Regions from separate parts of the Homo sapiens genome. Here all the other regions are reported to be linked to region 2. Evidence: microRNA targets listed by miRTarBase, many of them from high-throughput screens and not tested one by one. Region 2 holds a microRNA gene; each other region holds the end of a gene's coding sequence. Distances are between the middles of the regions.

Evidence for each region. Region 2 holds the annotated microRNA hsa-miR-3120-5p (CCUGUCUGUGCCUGCUGUACA, at 1,447-1,467, opposite strand). A microRNA usually pairs through its seed, bases 2 to 8, with sites in the 3' UTR of a target mRNA and lowers its output. Matches are read on the target gene's strand: a 7mer-m8 pairs with bases 2 to 8, a 7mer-A1 pairs with bases 2 to 7 and ends in A, and an 8mer does both.
Region 1: the mRNA of ARSD is a reported target of hsa-miR-3120-5p. Seed matches in the 3' UTR shown: 7mer-A1 at 406-412 and 7mer-A1 at 1,344-1,350.
Region 3: miRTarBase lists TNFAIP8L2 as a target of hsa-miR-3120-5p. Seed matches in the 3' UTR shown: 7mer-A1 at 2,945-2,951 and 7mer-A1 at 2,917-2,923.
Region 4: the mRNA of NXN is a reported target of hsa-miR-3120-5p. The part of its 3' UTR that is shown has no 7-base or 8-base seed match.
Region 5: the mRNA of ZNF555 is a reported target of hsa-miR-3120-5p. Seed matches in the 3' UTR shown: 7mer-A1 at 381-387.

The regions. Positions count from the first base shown.
Region 1 is chrX:2,903,922-2,907,520 of GRCh38, reverse strand. It overlaps ARSD (arylsulfatase D), which reads left to right. Exons shown (of 10, transcript NM_001669.4): 10 at 1-3,549. The coding sequence ends at 250. ARSD-AS1 (ARSD antisense RNA 1) reads right to left here and starts at 2,617. Exons shown (of 2, transcript NR_144459.1): 1 at 2,316-2,617; 2 at 1,399-1,953.
Region 2 is chr1:172,136,596-172,140,286 of GRCh38, reverse strand. It overlaps MIR3120 (microRNA 3120), which reads right to left and starts at 1,479; the gene lies at 1,399-1,479. All of the region lies in intron 14 of DNM3 (dynamin 3), which reads right to left. It overlaps DNM3OS (DNM3 opposite strand/antisense RNA), which reads left to right. Exons shown (of 4, transcript NR_103486.1): 4 at 1-3,408. It overlaps MIR214 (microRNA 214), which reads left to right and starts at 1,380; the gene lies at 1,380-1,489.
Region 3 is chr1:151,158,986-151,162,569 of GRCh38, reverse strand. It overlaps TNFAIP8L2 (TNF alpha induced protein 8 like 2), which reads right to left. Exons shown (of 2, transcript NM_024575.5): 2 at 2,821-3,584. The coding sequence ends at 3,318. All of the region lies in intron 1 of TNFAIP8L2-SCNM1 (TNFAIP8L2-SCNM1 readthrough), which reads right to left. It overlaps LYSMD1 (LysM domain containing 1), which reads left to right. Exons shown (of 3, transcript NM_212551.5): 2 at 470-834; 3 at 1,550-2,822. The coding sequence ends at 1,688. Among named protein-coding and RNA genes, the nearest start is that of TNFAIP8L2-SCNM1, 4.1 kb to the right of the region's middle.
Region 4 is chr17:797,960-801,650 of GRCh38, forward strand. It overlaps NXN (nucleoredoxin), which reads right to left. Exons shown (of 8, transcript NM_022463.5): 8 at 1,351-3,172. The coding sequence ends at 2,990. Among named protein-coding and RNA genes, the nearest start is that of MRM3, 17 kb to the left of the region's middle.
Region 5 is chr19:2,852,920-2,856,610 of GRCh38, reverse strand. ZNF555 (zinc finger protein 555) reads right to left here. Exons shown (of 4, transcript NM_152791.5): 4 at 1-3,691. The coding sequence ends at 2,659. Among named protein-coding and RNA genes, the nearest start is that of ZNF556, 13 kb to the left of the region's middle.

The DNA.
Region 1 (3,599 bases), not on the chromosome of region 2:
CAGACCCCCTTTGCTCTTTGACCTCTCCAGGGACCCCTCCGAGGCACGGCCCCTGACCCCCGACTCCGAGCCCCTGTACCACGCCGTGATAGCAAGGGTAGGTGCCGCGGTGTCGGAGCATCGGCAGACCCTGAGTCCTGTGCCCCAGCAGTTTTCCATGAGCAACATCCTGTGGAAGCCGTGGCTGCAGCCGTGCTGCGGACATTTCCCGTTCTGTTCATGCCACGAGGATGGGGATGGCACCCCCTGAATGCCAGGACTGTGAGAGAGGATCCAGGAGAGCCTGACTGCGTTGCAAACAAAATTCTCCAAGCTTGGTTCTATCTTCAGCTTCCCTTTTTGCAAGGAACATGCCCTGGACTGAGAGTGGGTCCCCACTTTCTTTCTTTCTTTCTTTCTTTTTTGAGACAGAGTGTCGCTCTGTCCCTCAGGCTGGAATGCAATGGCACGATCTCTGCTCACTGCAACCTCCGCCTCCCGGGTTCAAGCGATTTTCCTGCCTCAGCCTCCTGAGTACCCAGGATTACAGGCACCAGGCACCTGCCACCATGCCTAGCTAATTTTTGTAGTTTTAGTAGAGACAGGGTTTCACCATGTTGCCCAGGCTGGTCTCGCACTCCTGACCTCAAGTCATCCACCTGCCTCAGCCTCCCAAAGTGCTGGGATTACAGGCACGAGCCACTGCGCCCATGTAGGGTTTCCCTTTCCTGATTTGTGAAATAAGACTGTCCCAGTAGGCACCCACTGATGCCTCCTCTTCCTCTTCTAAATCTCAGGGTTCGTCATTGTGCCAATGCCCGATGTTTTCACCCCTCCGTCTTAAAGCATTGTTGCAATTTCATCACCTAGATGACATAACAGCCTTACAAAAGGACAGGGAGGAGTGTCTGTTCCTACTCTCACATAGCGGAGGAAAGTTAGAGCCTCTCAGTCTCTGTTTATGAGGACTCATTAATCTCAAATAATTGATGCATTTTTCATACATTAGGGTCTCTGTCCATGTGTCTTCCTGATATTGTTATAGAAATGGCTTCAGGCTGCTGGTAACAGATGCTGCGGAAAAAGAATGCCTTAAACAAAGCCAGGCACGGTGACTCACACCTGTAATCCCAGCACTTTGGGAGGCTAAGGTGGGAGGATCACTTGAGCCTAGGAGTTAGACACCTACCCAGCCTGAGCAACACAGTGAGACCTCATCTCTACAAAAAACAAATAATTAGCTAGATGTCGTGGCGCACAGCTGTAGTCTCAGCTACTTAGGAGGCTGAGGCGGGAGGATTATTTGAGCCTGGGAGGTCAAAACTGCAATGAGCTAAGATTGCACTACTGCACTCCGGGCTGGGAGACAGAGTAAGACCCTGCCTTAAAAAAAAAAAAAAAAAAATGCCTTAAAGAAAATAATAAGAGAAGGGTGTGTTCTCTTCCAAGTAATGAGCCGATCAAGGGGAAGCAACCCAAGGCTAGCAGGCTCTTTTCAATTCCCAGCTCTGCCACTCTTAGCATGGCAGAGAGTTGGCCTCATTATGCCAGTATGGCTGCCACAGTGTCAGACATCACATTCCAGGCAGTGGAAAGGAGAAAGAACCAAAGGGCATCCCTTTCTCTTGAAGCAGTCCCTGTGAGGGGGGATTATCTGGAAGCCCCAACCCAATTTCTGCTTCCAACCATTATCCATAGAAACAACTGGAAGTTGAGAAGTGCAGTCTTTTAGGTGGGCACCTGGCTGCCCTGTATGAAACCAGAATTAGGTTGGTCAGCAGGAAAACAAGAAAACACTTACTGTGTTGACTGAGGTTTTTGACGCATCGCTTTATTGTCAAATTAAACAACTCTATCTCATTCTGCACTGAAACACGTACTACCATTGCCTATAATTGGAAAATGATCCTCAGAGGCACAGAAGATGCCCTGATGGAAAGTTTGCCCCTTGGGCAAAGAGACAGCCATGGGAACCTTCAGACATAGAGAGAGAAGGTGGCTTTTCTCCCTACATTCCTCAAATAGCTAAGATTTGGCCAGTGTGTTTTCTAAGTCAATTCTAGTGTGTTTCATCCTCACCTCTTCCCTCTGTGGCTTTGATGATGGAAGTGTAGTCCTAACCTACTGCACAGCTGGGACCCCCTGCCCCTAGATCCCAATACTGGGGATGGGAGGACCTTGCACTATTCCCCTCAGTCCATCTATCGAGGTCTTTGCAGGAAGCATACTGGGAATTGAAACGAGAGCCTAAATGACATCTAAGAAAGGCAGTGTTCAATACCAGGTATTAGGTGAGGATGGGATTCTAAGGACATCAGTGGGAGGCAGGGAGCCACCTTCAGACCTCAGCATGGAAGCTTCCAAGATCCAGAGGAAGAGGCAACAGCACTGAGAGTCATAGGTAGAAGAATCATCACAGCCCTGCTAACCAGGCAGCTGATGCCCCTCTCCCCTGGCTCCCTGTGTCCAAATCCTACAGGGGCATCTGTTGGCTGAACTCAACCTGAAGCCAAAGAGAAGATGAGTGGAGAGAGGCAACATTTATAGAGCTCAGGTTTCTAGGGCTGGAGAGGGATCTGGAGGGACACACAGGAGACACCTGGCATAACCAAAAAATGATTAAAAAAAAAAAAAAAAAGAAACATCTATGGAGCATGGGACACGGGGAGTGGAGGCAGCTAAAAGCCATCTCATCTTTCACCGTATTCAACAAGCCCATTATAACAAGTCTTTCACGCTCAACCATTCAAACAATCCCAACAATCCCAGCCTAAGAATTTCCTGGCATTTGATGAAAATGGCTGTGGGTTTTGCTATCTTTAAGCTCCCTGGGAAGCAGGATATAAGCCCAGGGCTGGCAGGCTCTTTCTAGCTACCTGCTCTTGCACATAGAGTTTGCCTCATGGTTGCAAGAAGGCTGCCATAGCTCCAGATGGCACATAGACATTCCAGGCAGCAGGAAAAAGGAAGGAGCACTTAACCGAAGGAGGTCAGGGAGTTGGTTAGTCTCCACCTGAAGAAGAGAGCCATGAACCAGCTTCAGTTGACTAACGGGCTCCTGTGAGTGCATCTTTGGACTTTTCTGGAGGTTGAAATCTAGATGTGGTATGTGTCTTAAAGCAGCCACCAACTCCTCCCATTACCTTCCAAGTGAGCCCAACTACACGATGGAGCCTCTTCCCTGCCCTTGGATCTGGGCTGAGCCTCTGACTTGCGTTGACCAACAGAATGCAGTGAAAGTGATGCCGATACTACCCTCCCTGCCCTAGACTTGGGATACCTGGCAGCTATATTCTTCCATTCCTCAGGACTTGCAAAAACGGGTCTCAGCATGCCTTCCCAGAGCCATGAGGTGTTTCTTTGCCCATTCATTGATCTGAGAAGTGAGTGTAAGGAGTTTAAATCAACCTCTGTTCTGTGCTAGTTAAGGTAATAAAGTTGCTGCAGTCCAGGGGGTAGGTACCTGTGGACGGCTCTGCGAATAGGACAGTTGCATTTCTTGGGAATCAAGTGCATCCCTAGGCTGGCAGTGCAGCAGAAATACTGAATAAAATGTGACAAATCTCCCTGGATGGTGTCATTTGTTTGTTTTTATTTCCCATCCTCAATCCTACTTTTCC
Region 2 (3,691 bases):
AATCGGAAATTTGTTTTCTTGAAATTACATAAATACACAGAAAATGGCACTTATTAGCTTTTGTTAAAACATTACCTTACCTAATCACTGCATAAAAGTCCAGATTTGTAGAAAATTGTAATTTTCTCAGTATCTAAAACTATTTTGCTTTCCATTAAGTTTCTATTTGCTATTTTCTCAGAATTTTACAATTAAAGATAAATCACAAACTGTTTGTTTTTCTTAAAGTTCTTTGAGAAAATGTCTAATTATACAATCCTTGGACAATACTGTGTTTTTTTGGTGCTGTGTTTTTTAAGAAGTCCTACTTACTGGAATTTTGACTATTTGGATATTTTTGTTTTTAAAAGGGGAGGGGAATTTGCTTAATACTTCTAAAGATGTGAATTGATAATTGATATTAAAATAGAATTACTCTCAACTCACCAGAATTAAATTTTATATCTGCATATTTAACACTATTAGCTCATATAAATTATAAGAAAAATTTTCAAAGGATCTGGTTTTAATTTTTTGGATATGAAATGAATTTGCCTTTTCTGCCTTTTCTTAAGTACTATTTTGTAACTATATTGCACTAACTATATCCAAAACACATTCTGAGCATCACTGTGAGTAACAGCCTTCCAGTTTGTACCCTTTTGATTCACAGCATGGCCCTATAGTTAATTAAGAGGTGGATAACTTAAGCTCACAACTGCCTTTAATTTGATTTCACATCCACAGTTATAAACTTTGCATTTAAAAGGAAAATGAGACATTTAAATAGGTTCCTGTTGTTTCACATATAATTGGTAAAAACATATTCCCTTGTAGGATCCTATTATCAGAGCATCAAATACCAAAGTCAGCAACTTGGGTTGCCAAATAAATTAGGCTCATTAATTATTTTGAAAAGGGCTGCTGTTTCCATGTAAATGATAATTTTCTTTTTCATGGACAAGGTTATGGTACTTATCTACTAAAAGAAACATGCATAAACATAGTTTTTATCTTTAACTTCAGTATTAAAATATGCAGTTTTTTGCAAAGAGGAAAAACATCTGGTTCAATTACGCTGAACTCTGACTACATGTGGGCCAGTAATAATATGAATTGGACTTAAGAATAAACCTTGTGTTTAATCTCTTTTTTTCCTTAAAATTTTAATGTGAGTTTTCTGTTACGCAAATTATCCATGTTAGCACATTTGGAACAAATGTATAAATGTACTTTCTGAATAAAGTCAAAAGTCTAACTTGTTTTTAGTTCCATAATGTTTTAATGTTTAATTATATTGTGTATTTTTCTCCCTTTCCCCTTACTCTCCAAAATCACCAAATCTGGAAAACAGGCTGATTGTATCTGTCTATGAGCAAAGGAAACCTGAAGGAACCAAGGGCCTGGCTGGACAGAGTTGTCATGTGTCTGCCTGTCTACACTTGCTGTGCAGAACATCCGCTCACCTGTACAGCAGGCACAGACAGGCAGTCACATGACAACCCAGCCTGAATGACAACCAGCCATTGAAAGAAAGCAGCCCTCACACCATAGCATCTACACCAAGAGCTACAACCAAAATGAGGGGCTCGGGGGCCTGGGGTTTTAATCTGTTGGTTTAATACTTAACTCATGTATTATTTTATTTTGATTCAAGTATTAAAACCCACCAAAAGTAAAGTGAGTGGTGCCTATGAAATATAATAAAACCCATTTCTGAAAATGTTCCTGTGCATTCTATAGTTCTCTTTTCCTAATTGTTGTCAGCAAATCACTACCCTTGACCTTTATTGTACACAGCTTTGCAGCACCCTATATTGATATAAAAACTCAATATAACAAAACAATATAACTTCAGTCTGATGCTTAACAAAGAATAAATTATTCTAAGAATTCTTGTCCATAAACTAAGTATGGTTTTCTATGTCATGATTTTTTTTTTTTTTTTTTTTTTTTGGAAGGGGATAGGGTGGAAAGACAGAGAAAAGAAAAGGGAGAAAAAGAGTATTCCAAAGGATCAAGTGCTTTGAGTTAACTCTGCCAGTCTGGGTTAACTCTGCCAGTCTGGGTCTGGGCAAAACACAGTGAAAAGACTACTATTTCCAACTAGTGTTCAACTATATTAAAATAATAGTTTCTCCTCTTTTGACATATGGAAAGTTGAAATTTTTGATACTTCCACGCGTCATGGTATACATAAATTTATGACTGCGTCATTCTTTAATTAAGAAGGTGCTTATGCTACAGTTCTAGGAGTAGAATTTACAAGGCCAACACATTCACTTGCAACCTATGCTTCCATCACTATAAACTTTCAAGATCTTGAGATGTTCAGGCAATTCATTTATCTTCAGAAGCATAAGGAAAGTGGTTAATGCACTTGAAATGTATATTTTGACACATCTTTTGAGAAAATATCCAAACTTCAGTTTATGCACTGTTAACTGGAGTGAAATGATAAGGGATGGCTTTTGTCTATGAATACTTTAAATACTTAAGGGTAAAAGGTGGGAAGATGGATAAAATTAGAAATGTGTCAACTTTTATTTAGTTCATTAACATGTTTTAGCTTCAGTATTTGAAATTAATTTTCATCTTTCTTAGATTCTGGTCAAGCTTAAAAAATGTAACACAAGGCTACTCAAAACTTTTTTCACATTTAACAATTAAACACTTTATGTATGTATTCTTAACTAAAGCAAACTATTTTTCATTCAGCTATTTTATTTTTAAAATGAAAGTCTCAGTCTTAAAGCTAAGATCCCAGTGAGTTTCAAATTTTCTGACAATGATATTTTAACCAAACCTGACATTATAGTTTCTTTAATTAAAAAACTGAATGATGGGGCAAAACTACAAAGCACAAATATGATTAAAGTTAAATTTCTCTCATTTAAACAATCTTGTCTTATGGCAATATGTCATCTGCTAAAATTCATCTCTGCTTCTGCAAGATACATTGCACGATGCAGATTTTTGCCTTAAATAAAAGTCCCATTACTAGCAAATAAAGTCCTAAACAATACTTACAAAATGTAGAATATAAACAGGAAGACAATATAAAAATTACTCACAGAATATCGACATCGTTCTACCCAATCTTAAATGCCTTGTACCACCTGTTGCAAATGCTGCCTATGAGAGTTCACGTATGGAATTATTCTACTGGACCCTGCAAGGCTCAGGAGAGTGCTTGACAGCTCCCAGAATGAGACAATGACCTAGCCAGAACATTAAGGAGACTACACCCGTCCTTCAGACTCCAAAGGGAAAGCTAGGACGGCAGCAGAGTCATCCTAAGGTGAGGCACTCCAGGATAACATTTTCAATATTTTTCCTTAAAACATAAAGTTAACACCTTTTTTGTTAAACATTTTTTACTCAATTTTCAAAAAAAATGCTTGAAAGAATGTTTTGTATGTATTTTAAAGTCATTAAATGAGGCACATTTAAAAATTTTTCTCTTCTGGGAAAGGGTAATATAAAGGATAATATTGCTCTTCCAGGATAAACTTTTGAGTGGGACAAATAATGCATATAGGGGAGTGGGTTTGAATCTAAACTCATTTTTAATAAATTTGGAATAGGATTGGCCATTATGGTTTATTGAATAATACTCTTTTTTTCAAAATTATAAATCTTTAGATAATACCAGAACATGGAAATATTTGTATGAATAATCCTATATTAAAAAAGAATAACATCAGATAGT
Region 3 (3,584 bases), 21 Mb from region 2:
AGACCCAGGATTGTCATTCTAGCTCTGTCATTAACTTGATAGATAATTTTAGGAAAGTAGCTTAACCTCTCTGAGCCTCAGTTCCTTCATTTTTATTTATTCATTAATTTATTTATTCATTTATTTTTAATTTTTTAATTTTTAGAAATGGCGTCTCACTATATTACTCAGGCTGGACTCTAATTCCCGGGCTCAAGCTATCCTCCCTCCTCAGCCTCCTGAGTAGCTGGAATTATAGGCATCAGACATTGCGCCTGGCTTGCACAATAATTTTTTAAAATGTAAGGGGGCCCTAAGACCAAAAAGTGTGAAAACCACTCATCTATAGAATAGAAATAATGTCAGCCCTTTGTACTTTAGCTTGGTTGTTATGGAATCAAAGAAGACTCTGTACAGTCACTTTAAAAAGCTCAAGATGTAAGATTGATCATTATTACTGTCCTTAATTTTGGTGACTTTTTTTTTTAAGATGGAACAGATTAAACGTGCAAACCGCCTTTATACTAATGACTCCATCTTCCTGAAGAAAACCCTCTACATCCCCATCCTGACAGAGCCCAGAGACCTGTTCAATGGTTTGGACTCTGAGGAAGAGAAAGATGGAGAGGAAAAAGTACACCCAAGTAACAGTGAAGTTTGGCCACACTCAACTGAGAGGAAGAAACAAGAGACAGGAGCAGGACGTGCCAATGGTGAAGTCCTCCCCACACCTGGCCAGGAAACCCCCACGCCCATCCATGACCTCTCTGCCTCTGATTTCCTTAAGAAGCTTGATTCACAGATCAGCCTGTCCAAGAAGGCTGCTGCTCAGAAGCTGAAAAAAGGGGAAAATGGGTGAGTCTTGAATGGTTCCTTATAAGTTCCTCCCTAGACTCCTCCATCATTCCTGTCTTACCTAACCACAAACACAAGTAAGTAAGGACAGTGCCAACAGAGGCAAGGTGATACCTTTCCCCCATGTGGCCCCAAGATAATGAGCAGAGGTGATGGCTGCTGGCCTGGGTAGAGGCAGTGGAAAACTGGGTTCTGTGTTCTTATTGGAGTCAGACAGTTAACTATTTTTTTTTTTTTTTGAGACGGGGTCTTGCTCTGTTGCCCAGGCTGGAGTGCAGTGGCGCGATCTTGGCTCACTGCAAGCTCCGCCTCCCAGGTTCACGCCATTCTCCTGCCTCAGCCTCCCGAGTAGCTGGGACTACAGGCGCCCGCCACCACGCCCGGCTAATATTTTGTATTTTTAGTAGAGGCGGGGTTTCACCATGTTAGCCAGGATGATCTCAATCTCCTGACCTCGTGATCCGCCAGCCTCGGCCTCCCAAAGTGCTGGAATTACAGGCGTGAGCCACAGCGGCCAGCTGACAGTTAACTGTTTTTACTGCTCTGATCATCCATGAAGGAGCATTAGGGTTAGGATTTATCTAGAGGGTACTGAGACTGTCTTGAAGCAACCAGCTTATGTATTAGAAGATAGCTTTCCATGTACCTCTCACTTGGCCCATTGTCAGGTTCTTCCCTTGATCTGTCACTCTTTCCCCCCTTTCCTCAATTGCAGGGTACCTGGGGAGGATGCAGGTCTCCACCTGAGCTCCCCTTGGATGCAGCAACGAGCAGTCCTAGGTCCTGTGCCGCTGACCCGTACCTCTCGGACCCGGACACTACGGGACCAGGAGGATGAAATCTTCAAACTCTGATGTCCCCAGAACTGACTGAGAGAAGCAAGATGTTGAAAGAGAAACTTCAGGGGGAGAGGAGCCTGAGGTGAGGCTCAAGAACATGGCTTATGAGCCTGCCTCCCTCCACTCCAGCCATCCTCCCCAGCCTCCTTGTCTGCCAAAAATTCCTTGGCCTGGGGCAGTTTTATTGGCAAGATTAGGGAATGGGAACTGGACCTTTCCCAGTTCTTGGGCTGAATCTAGAGTTGAGTCCTTTAGACTCAAAAGGCTCTTTTTATATCCTTGTTGCCTTTCCTATCCTTTTTACCTTTCCCTGGCCTTAGAACAGGGAAGCAGAGACTCCCCCTCAGCTTCTTCCTCATCTCCAACTATGTGACATAATTTATTTGGTGCTAATATTGAAGTAATATTTATTTGCTATATTTTATTTCTTCCCACTCTTAGCTGAAAAATGGAATTTCTATAGCCCTGGGGTGAGGAGAACCCGGGAACAGTGAGCCAGTGACTGCTGGTTCTCCACTTTCCCCACCTTGTTAGCCAAACATGTTATTGAGGATGAGGCAATCGGTGATATAGCCCACCACAGAGAATGGATGACTGTTGGCCTTTTCTCCAATCTCAAAGTGACAGATTTGGGCTGATTCTTTTTTTTTTTTTTTTTGGTACCCCATTCCTGTTGAATGGGCTCAGTCTTGACAAACCAATTCCCTGTAACTTTTTCACAATTCTTGACTCTGAGAAAAAGCAGCACTGTAGGGACCTGAACTCTCCATTCTACCAGTTCACCCTTCTGACCTGTTCTGCTCAGCCTGTGGTGAGGGGAACAGATGGAAGAAGGCTTTCCTTGGGGTTTGAAGAGGAAGCCAGTTGTGGGAGTCTCTTTGTTACACCCCCTCCCCTCCAGACCCTCTCTCTCTATGCCTTCCTCCTCACTGCATATTTATTTGCGATTTGTAGCACTGATCTATGGTACAGTTGTTTTGTTTCTTAAACAGAAGTAGGTAAGGGAACCTCAGTAATAATGGAAATCTGCCTCAGTCTCCTGTTTGGAAATGATGAGAGGTGAGATAAGTAATGTTTATATACCTCCTTTCTTCTGTGATGATTATAAGGTATACGAAGCTGGACAGATTAAACATTGAGCCCTGTGCATATTTTAGTAGTTTTATTTCCCCTATGAGAATCTCCCCTGCCCTAGCCCCTTCTTCCTGCACTCTGGAACAGAGCCTCTGGCATCTGTCCAAGCTCTGTCTCTAAGGGCCACCTTCCCCTCTTCTGTCTTTAGTATCCCCAAAGGGGTTCTCTGGGCTGTGCCTCCTTTCCTTGGTTCACATGGGAGGGGGCTTCCCTGTTTCAGAAGTCCCTTATGGGAGAAATAGAGATCCAAGTTTCACTTCACCTTTTTCAGGCAGTTCTGTTTCCTGTCCTGGGGCTGGAGTGGGAGAGAGGCCTCACCCCTCAGCATTGCTCCTTCTCCACTAGCTGTTTGGGGGTGGGCTGGTCTCAGAGTCAAAAGCACTCTTGGGAAGGAATGAAGCCTGAAGATTGAAAAGTGTTAGTGCCAGGTGAGCAGGGTTAGGAAGCCCATTATCTGTGTTTTCTCAGTCAACCATTTTGTCAAGGTGGAATGTGCTAGGCTCAGGGCTCTCAGAGCTTCCCTTCGTCTAGCAGCTTCCTGAGTCCGTCACAGATCTTGCCAAGGTGCTGAGTGAAGTCAGGCCCATAGAGGGCCGTGAGCAGACCTGGGTCAGAGAAGTGATCAAACACGTGGCGGATGCGGCCATGTGACTTGGGCGTGAGGTGGTGTTCCACCAACTCTAGCAGCACATCCCGGCACTCGGTCAGCAGGCCAGCCAGAACAGCAGCCTCGAAGGTGAAGTCTACCTCACCAAAGCTAAGTGCCGTCATGGCACC
Region 4 (3,691 bases), not on the chromosome of region 2:
AGGTTAAAAAAAACAACAACAACAGGCTGGCTGTGCCGGCGCACGCCTGGAATCCCAGCACTGTGGGAGGCCAAGGCAGGCAGATCACCTGAGGTCAGGAGTTCGAGACCAGCCTGGCCAACATGGCGAAACCCCGTCTCTACTAAAAATACAAAAATTAGTCAGGCGCGGTGGTGTCGCTTGTAATCTCAGCTACTTGGGAGACTGAGGCAGGAGAATGGCTTGAACCTGTGAGCTGGGATCGTGCCACTGCACTCTAGCCGGGGCGACAGAGCGAGACTCTGTCTCAAAAAAAAAAAAAAAAAAAAACCCTCATCGCTGTTGTGAGGATGAATGGATGGGATCTGGAAGTCACTGTGGTAAACACAAATCTGGGAACCACAGAGTGGCGTTTTCACAGCCGCCCCCAGCCTCCACCTGCAGGGCCTGGTTTTCCTGGCTGCCGGAGGAAGCCCTTGAATATGCCACAGCTGGTGCTGAACCTGCTTCCAATTAGCAACAAGAATCTGAAGGTGGAGCTGCTTGGCGGGGATTATCATGCCACCCACTTCGCCTGCATCTGTGGCCTTTACGACCTCTCACTATCGATCCCTGACACTCAGAAGTGATTCTTCCCTAACGGTTTCCCGCAAAGCAGTCACTGTATAAACCTGAACCTTTGGAGTAAACCTTCCCCACGGGTCTTAAGGAAGCTACAGACCCACTCTAAAAGGGGAATTCTGGTGTCAAGAATCCAGTTGCAATGACTTAGGGCAACCCCCTCGCTGGACTTTGTTCCTCCTGCCCCAAAGGTAAGCAGCTGCTAAGAGAACCCACCTTTCCTCCGAGGCCATCATGATACATGGAGAGAAATCCTGCCACCTCCCACATTCAGGTCGGCCACATTCATCCCACCCACCCCGACCCCTAAGGGAGACTCTGGCAGCGTTCCCAGAGAAGCCTTGAGCCTGGGACCTGCTGGGTTTAAGAGGCTCCCACACTTGGCCCATTCTTCACAAGGAGACCCGTGCGTGATTCCTCCTGTTCTCCCAACCAGCTTTCTCAGGCTTCAGAGGACTCGGCTCCCCTGGAGGGAGGAAATGGGCAAGAATGTCCACAGCAAGGTACGCGATCTGAGGATTCACCCTCCGTCCAGGGCCAAGTCAAACCAGGAGAGACGGTGGCCAGGGCTGCAGGAGGGATCTGCCTCTGCCACGGTCATCCAAATGAGCTTCCTGGCTGCCGGAAGCCAAGAGGATGTGACAGATGCTACATCCTGGGGGTCTCAAAACTCCTGGGACTCAGCTCCCAGCTACCAGGTATCCTCCACTGCCCACCCCGATAGAGCACAGGACCACAAGCAAAAACAACTTTTGTGATCAAGGACAGCAGAGGCCCAGGGTGGATGAGGTCCAGAGATGCCTGCTTTATTTCCTACGGGGTGATCGCATTTCAGGCTGGTAACATCACATAACAAGTCTAATCGCCAACTAGTTGTACGCCTCTGAACTACAAGTCAACAATCCAATTCAGCAAGGAACAACAGTGTCAACAGCTCATTAGCGGGTGGGGACCGGATTTTCCAAATCAATGGTCTTGGCTGGCAGAGTGCTGAGTGGGGCCTGAGTGAATGAGGCTAAAACGCTTGGCCGAAGCCGTCCATCCCCAATCCTGAGAACAGAGTTGTCTGTTTCTCTTTCGGGGGTCAGGTCAGCCCAAGTAAGAGGCCAACAACCTACCTGGGCCGATACAAGGCGACACAAGGCCCACCCGTGGCTGACGCGCCCTCCACCCTCACTCCATCCCGGGGCACAGCTCCTTCCGCTGGTGCTTAGGAAAAGGCGAGGCTTCTGGTAATTTCTCATCTTTGTAGTTCTGCTTTGAAAAGAAAAGGGGGCCGGGCACGGCGGCTCACGCCTGTAATCCCAGCACTTTGGGAGGCCGAGGCGGGTGGATCACCTGAGGTCAGGAGTTCGAGACCAGCCTGGCCAACATGGTGAAACCCCATCTCTACTAAAAATACAAAAATTAGCCAGGTACGGTGGCGGGTGCCTGTAATCCCAGCTACTCGGGAGGCTGAGGCAGGAGAATCACTTGAACCTTGGGGGCGGAGGTTGAAGTGAGCCAAGATGGTGCCACTGCACTCCAGCCTGGGCGACAGAGCAAGACTCCATCTCAAAAAAAAGAAAATAAAAGGGAATGGCAGGGGTGATCGAACGTGGGTGTGGGCACCTCAGCAGAGATCAGGGGCCTTGGGCACAGAGCTGGGTGGAGCGAGAGGTCCGTGCTGGTGCAGAGGTGCTCCTCCTAGGACTCAGGGCTAAGTTTCTTGGGAAGATGTCCAAAGAGAAGGATTCGTTAACAGAATTTCAGGATCGTGGGAGCTGTTTGTATGATATGAACCATTACCTTAGCTACATTTTTCTTCTCACCCAAAAAACCTCTACAAGCTTCCTTTTGCATTTGGAGATCCCCTGCCTGAGAACACAAGAGTGGGCTGCTTTTCTCTCAGACCGAGGAAGACTGTGTTGCTTAGAAAAGGACGTCCTCACCCGCAGCTCTAAGCGGAGGCCCTTTCTCAGCTCAGCCTCCACGCAGGTGTCACCCGGCGGTTCCCCTCTGGCCGTCCGGGGCCGTGTGTGCCGACGTCAGAGTCAGAGCCCGAGCGGGACCCACCGGCCCTCCACGCTCACTCTGCCCAGGACACCCTGGCAGATCCTTCACCAAAAGCTAGTGACTTTGCGAAAGCCATGCAGCCCCGCTCTGGCCGGGCCCCCGGCCATCCCGTGCTCCCAAACAGAGTCTCCAAACACGGTGGACTCTGCCGCTGCTGATTCCACACCCCAGGGTGCTGGCTGAGGAGTTTACTGCAGAAACAAGGCACCACAGAGAGGCTGGACACTTGGGTGGTGGGATTCGGGGCACGCTGGGTAAGTCCAAGGGCGGAAGGAAGGAGGGGGAGGAGGAGAAGGCTGAGTTTTAAATAACGTCTCAGGAGGCCGGAGCCACGCTAGATGGGCTCCGGTTTGAGCTTCTCTGCTAGGAAGTCATTCACAAAGGCCTCCACGATGGCGGGGGTGATCTCCTCCACGTCCATCACGTACTTGGCCCGGGCTGACATGTCCAGGATGGTGAGCAAAGGGGCAGCCTCAGGCAGGTTGGTGTAATCTCGCAGGGAGTCAGTCATGTCATCCTGAAGCCGTCAGGAGGGAGAGAAAACCAAGAAGTTTTAAAGAAAGGAGGGGGAGAGTCCCCTGGGCCCAGTCTCCCCAGGTGTGGTAGCTCCCGCACCCTGAAGAGCCGGCGTTTCCCAAGCAGAGGGCTCCCAGCCTGGGAAGGAGGGAACCCTGCCCTGCCTTCCGGAGGAAGGGGCTGCTTTGTAAAATTCTCTCTTTGCATCCGCCCTGCAAACCACTAGGTAAGTCGTCTGTATTTAATTATTTATGTATTTATTAGCATCAACACCATTTTAATACGTCCTCAGCATTTTAGAAATGTCACATTCTTTTTTTTTTTTTTTTTTTTGAGATGGAGTCTCGCTCTGTCACCCAGGCTGGAGTGCAGTGGCACGATCTCGGCTCACTGCAAGCTCCACCTCCCGGGTTTAAGCAATTCTCCTGCCTCAGCCTCCTGAGTAGCTGGGACTACAGGCGCCCACCACGCCCGGCTAATTTTTTACATTTTTAGTAGAGACGGGGTTTCACCATGTTGG
Region 5 (3,691 bases), not on the chromosome of region 2:
TCTTTGACTACCAGTGTGATCCTGGTGGTTTCTGGGTAGAGGGCCTTGACAAAACCATTATTTCCGCTTTTTAATTGTTATTAACCACAAATAAGAAATCATTTTAGGCCGGGTGTGGTGGCTCATGCCTGTAATCCCAACACTTTGGGAGGCCAAGGTGGGCAGATCACCTGAGGTCAGGAGTTCAAGACCAGCCTGGCCAACATGGTGAAACCCCATCTCTACCAAAAATAAAAAAATTAGCTGGGTGTGGTGGTGCATGCCTGTAATCCCAACTACTCGGGAGGCTGAGGCAGGAGAATCAACTGAACCTGGGAGATGAAGGTTGCAGTGAGCTAAGGTCGTGCCACTGCACTCCAGCCTGGGTGACAGAGCGAGACTCTGTCTCAAAAAAAAAAAATCATTTTAATGGCAAATGTTAAGTATACAGCAATTAAAAATAACATTTATATGAAAAAATACCTGTATTTGTATATACTTGGTAATACTGATTCAAAATGTAACATGCTTAAATTATCAAAATTACAAAGTTGATTTGAAATCTGTAATTCTCTCGGTAAACAAAAAATAACATTTCTTAGTGTTATGGGTTGAATTGGGTCTCCTAAAATTTTTACGTTGAAATCTTAATTCGCGGTGCCTCAGTATGCGAAAAGAGAGCTGTTGCCAATGTAATTAGTTAAGGTAAAATCATACTGAAGTAGAGTGGGGCCTAACCCAATGAGTGGTGTGTATGTATAAAAATATTGTCACATGGAGAGACACACACACAGGGAGAATGCCATGTGAAAATTAGAGTTATGCTGCCACAAGCTAAGGAACTACCAGAAGCTAGGTGAGTTCTGAAACAGATCCTTCCCTAGCATCTTCAGAAAAAGCATGGTCCTGCCAATGCCTTGTTTCTGGATTTCTGGGTCCAGAACTGAGAAACAAAAAGTTTGTTTTCCTATGTCACCCAGTTTTTGTACTTTGTTATGGCAGCCCTGGGAAATTAATATAGTCTCTAAACAACTAATTTGAAAGCACAGTAAATAGGATTTTTTTTTCTTTTCTTGCTTGTGTGATGGAGTCTTTCCCCGTCTCCCAGGCTGGAGTGCAGTGGTGTGATCTTGGCTCACTGCAACCTCCGCCTCCTAGGTTCAAGCACTTCTCCTGTCTCAGCCTCCCAAGTAGCTGGGGTTACAGGTACTCACCACCATGCCTGGCTAATTTTTGTGTTTTTAGTAGAGACAGGGTTTCACCATGTTAACCAGGCTGGTCTCAAACTCCTGACCTCAAGCCTCCCAAAGTGCAGGGATTACAGGCATGAGCTACTGTGCCCAGCTAAACAGGATATTTCTAAGAAATATCTACAGAAGGTTTTCCTTGAAACAAAATCCACATTATTTTTAATGATACATAATCAAACCTAATAATTTAACCTATATCAAGAAACTGCATTTAGTTCTGAGTAACAGAAATCTCCCTAAATCTAATATATGAGGAAGGTATTTGTTCTCACATAGGACTCGGCAGGCACACTTAAAAATGCAATAGGGTACAAAGTCCCATGTGTTGTTTTTCTTCTTTGACTGCAACACTGTGGCTTTCGTGGTGGAATCAGGATCACAGAGCCACTGGAAGTATTAAGATAACAAGGTGTTCACTATATAAATTAGACCCCATGCAAATATGTTAAGATCTACAGAACGGGAGAATCAGAAGCTCAGAGACTGCCAAACAAGACAGTCTGAATCAGTGGTCAAGAGGTCATGCAGGGTTTTGAGAAAAATCCAGACTCTAGGTGACTGACCACACAGGAATATCCCTAATATCAAGTTAATGGAGATGTCTGAGGAAGACTACACCTCTGACACAGTGGAAATCAAGCACTTAAGTGTTTCTTTTGATGGTACTCTTGATTGGCAGGAATAAGAATCTGGAAAATAAGCTGAAGGTTGATGTTCACAAAGCCCCTATGCATCTGTCCATCTCCATTTAATGTGACCCCAAAAGCTCAGCGATGACTTACTTCTTCTTCATTCTAAATTTCATTCAAGTTATTGCTATTGGTAAATTTGGACATGGAACCATAAAGGAAATGCATTCCAGCAAATGAAGTTCCTAACACTACCCACACTGACAACAATGCAGAAGAACTATCTGCAACTCTGGATTTCTCCGTCACATCACAAGTCAAAGCCTACTGTCCAATTCACAATCACAAGCAAAGACAAACAGCAATGGGCAAACATTAAAAATTACAATTCATTTGAGGCTATACTCCTTAAACAACTTTGCATAATTACAAAATTCTGCCAACTACTTCTTAAAAAATGGAATAAGGCTCCTCTGGCCAAACAATAAAAATACTCCCAGTAAAAAAGGTGGAAAATATAATAGATACGTAATATCCAATACCTGTCACACTAAGTCAGTTACAATTTAAGAAATTAAATAAAACTTGAACCTACTTGCATATTAAAAATACACTTCAAATCATCCATGAGTCCAAAACACTCTAAGATGAAAGTTTTATTTACTGAATCGTAAGAAACTACCTGTTCAAATTCATGTAGGATAGCTGAGAGTATTTGGAGAATTATTTTTCAACTAAATGTTTATTTGCAAATGAACTACAGACACACTCCTTGAGTGTCCACTTTCAGGATAAGGAACTCATAAAGGCAACACCATATTTACAACTTTGATCAGATCTCTCTCCTGGTGTGACTTTTCTGAAGCACTGCACATGAATTCATTTGCAGGAGGATGTCCTACATTACACTTATACTGTTTTTCTGTAGTGTGTATTCTCACATGTCGCCTTAAGGATGAGGAACAATTGAATGCTTTCCCACAATGCTTACATTGATAAGGTTTCTCTCCAGTGTGCAGTCTCATATGTATTGGTAAAGATGATGGCCATTTGAAGACCTTCCCACATTCCTTACATTCATAGGGCTTCTCTACAGTGTGCGTTCTCACATGTTGTTGCAAAAGTTCAGGCCAACTGAAAGCTTTCCCACACTGCTTGCATTTATAGAGTTTCTCTGCGGTATGTCTTCTCATATGTTTTTGTAAGGATATGTGGCAATAGAAAGCTTTCCCACATAGCTTGCATTCATAGGATTTGTCTTCAGGGTGCATTCTCACATGTTCTCGAAAGCAAGCAGACAAGCTGAAGGCTTTCCCACACTGCTTACATTCATAGGGTTTCTCTCTAGTATGTGTTCTCATATGTTTTCGTAAAGATATGGGCCAATTGAAAGTTTTCCCACATTGCTTGCACTCATAGGGTTTCTCTCCAGTGTGCACCCTCATGTGTCCTCGAAAGGAGGAGGGGTGACTGAATGCTTTCCCGCACTGGTTGCATTCATAGGGTTTCTCTCCACCATGAGTCCTTTCATGTCTTCGAAAGGACTGGGGATAAATGAAGGTCTTCCCACACTGTTTGCATTCGTAGGGTTTCTCTCCAGTGTGAATCCTTTCATGTCTTCGAAAGGACTGGAGATAAATGAAGGTTTTCCCACATTGTTTGCATTCGTAGGGTTTCTCTCCAGTGTGTGTTATCATGTGTCTTCGAAAAGCCGAAGAATAACTGAAGGCCTCCCCACATTCTTTACATTTATGTGGCTTCTCTCCAGTGTGTGAAATCATATGTCTTCGAAAAGTTGAGGAATAACTAAAGGCTTCCGCACATTCCTTACAT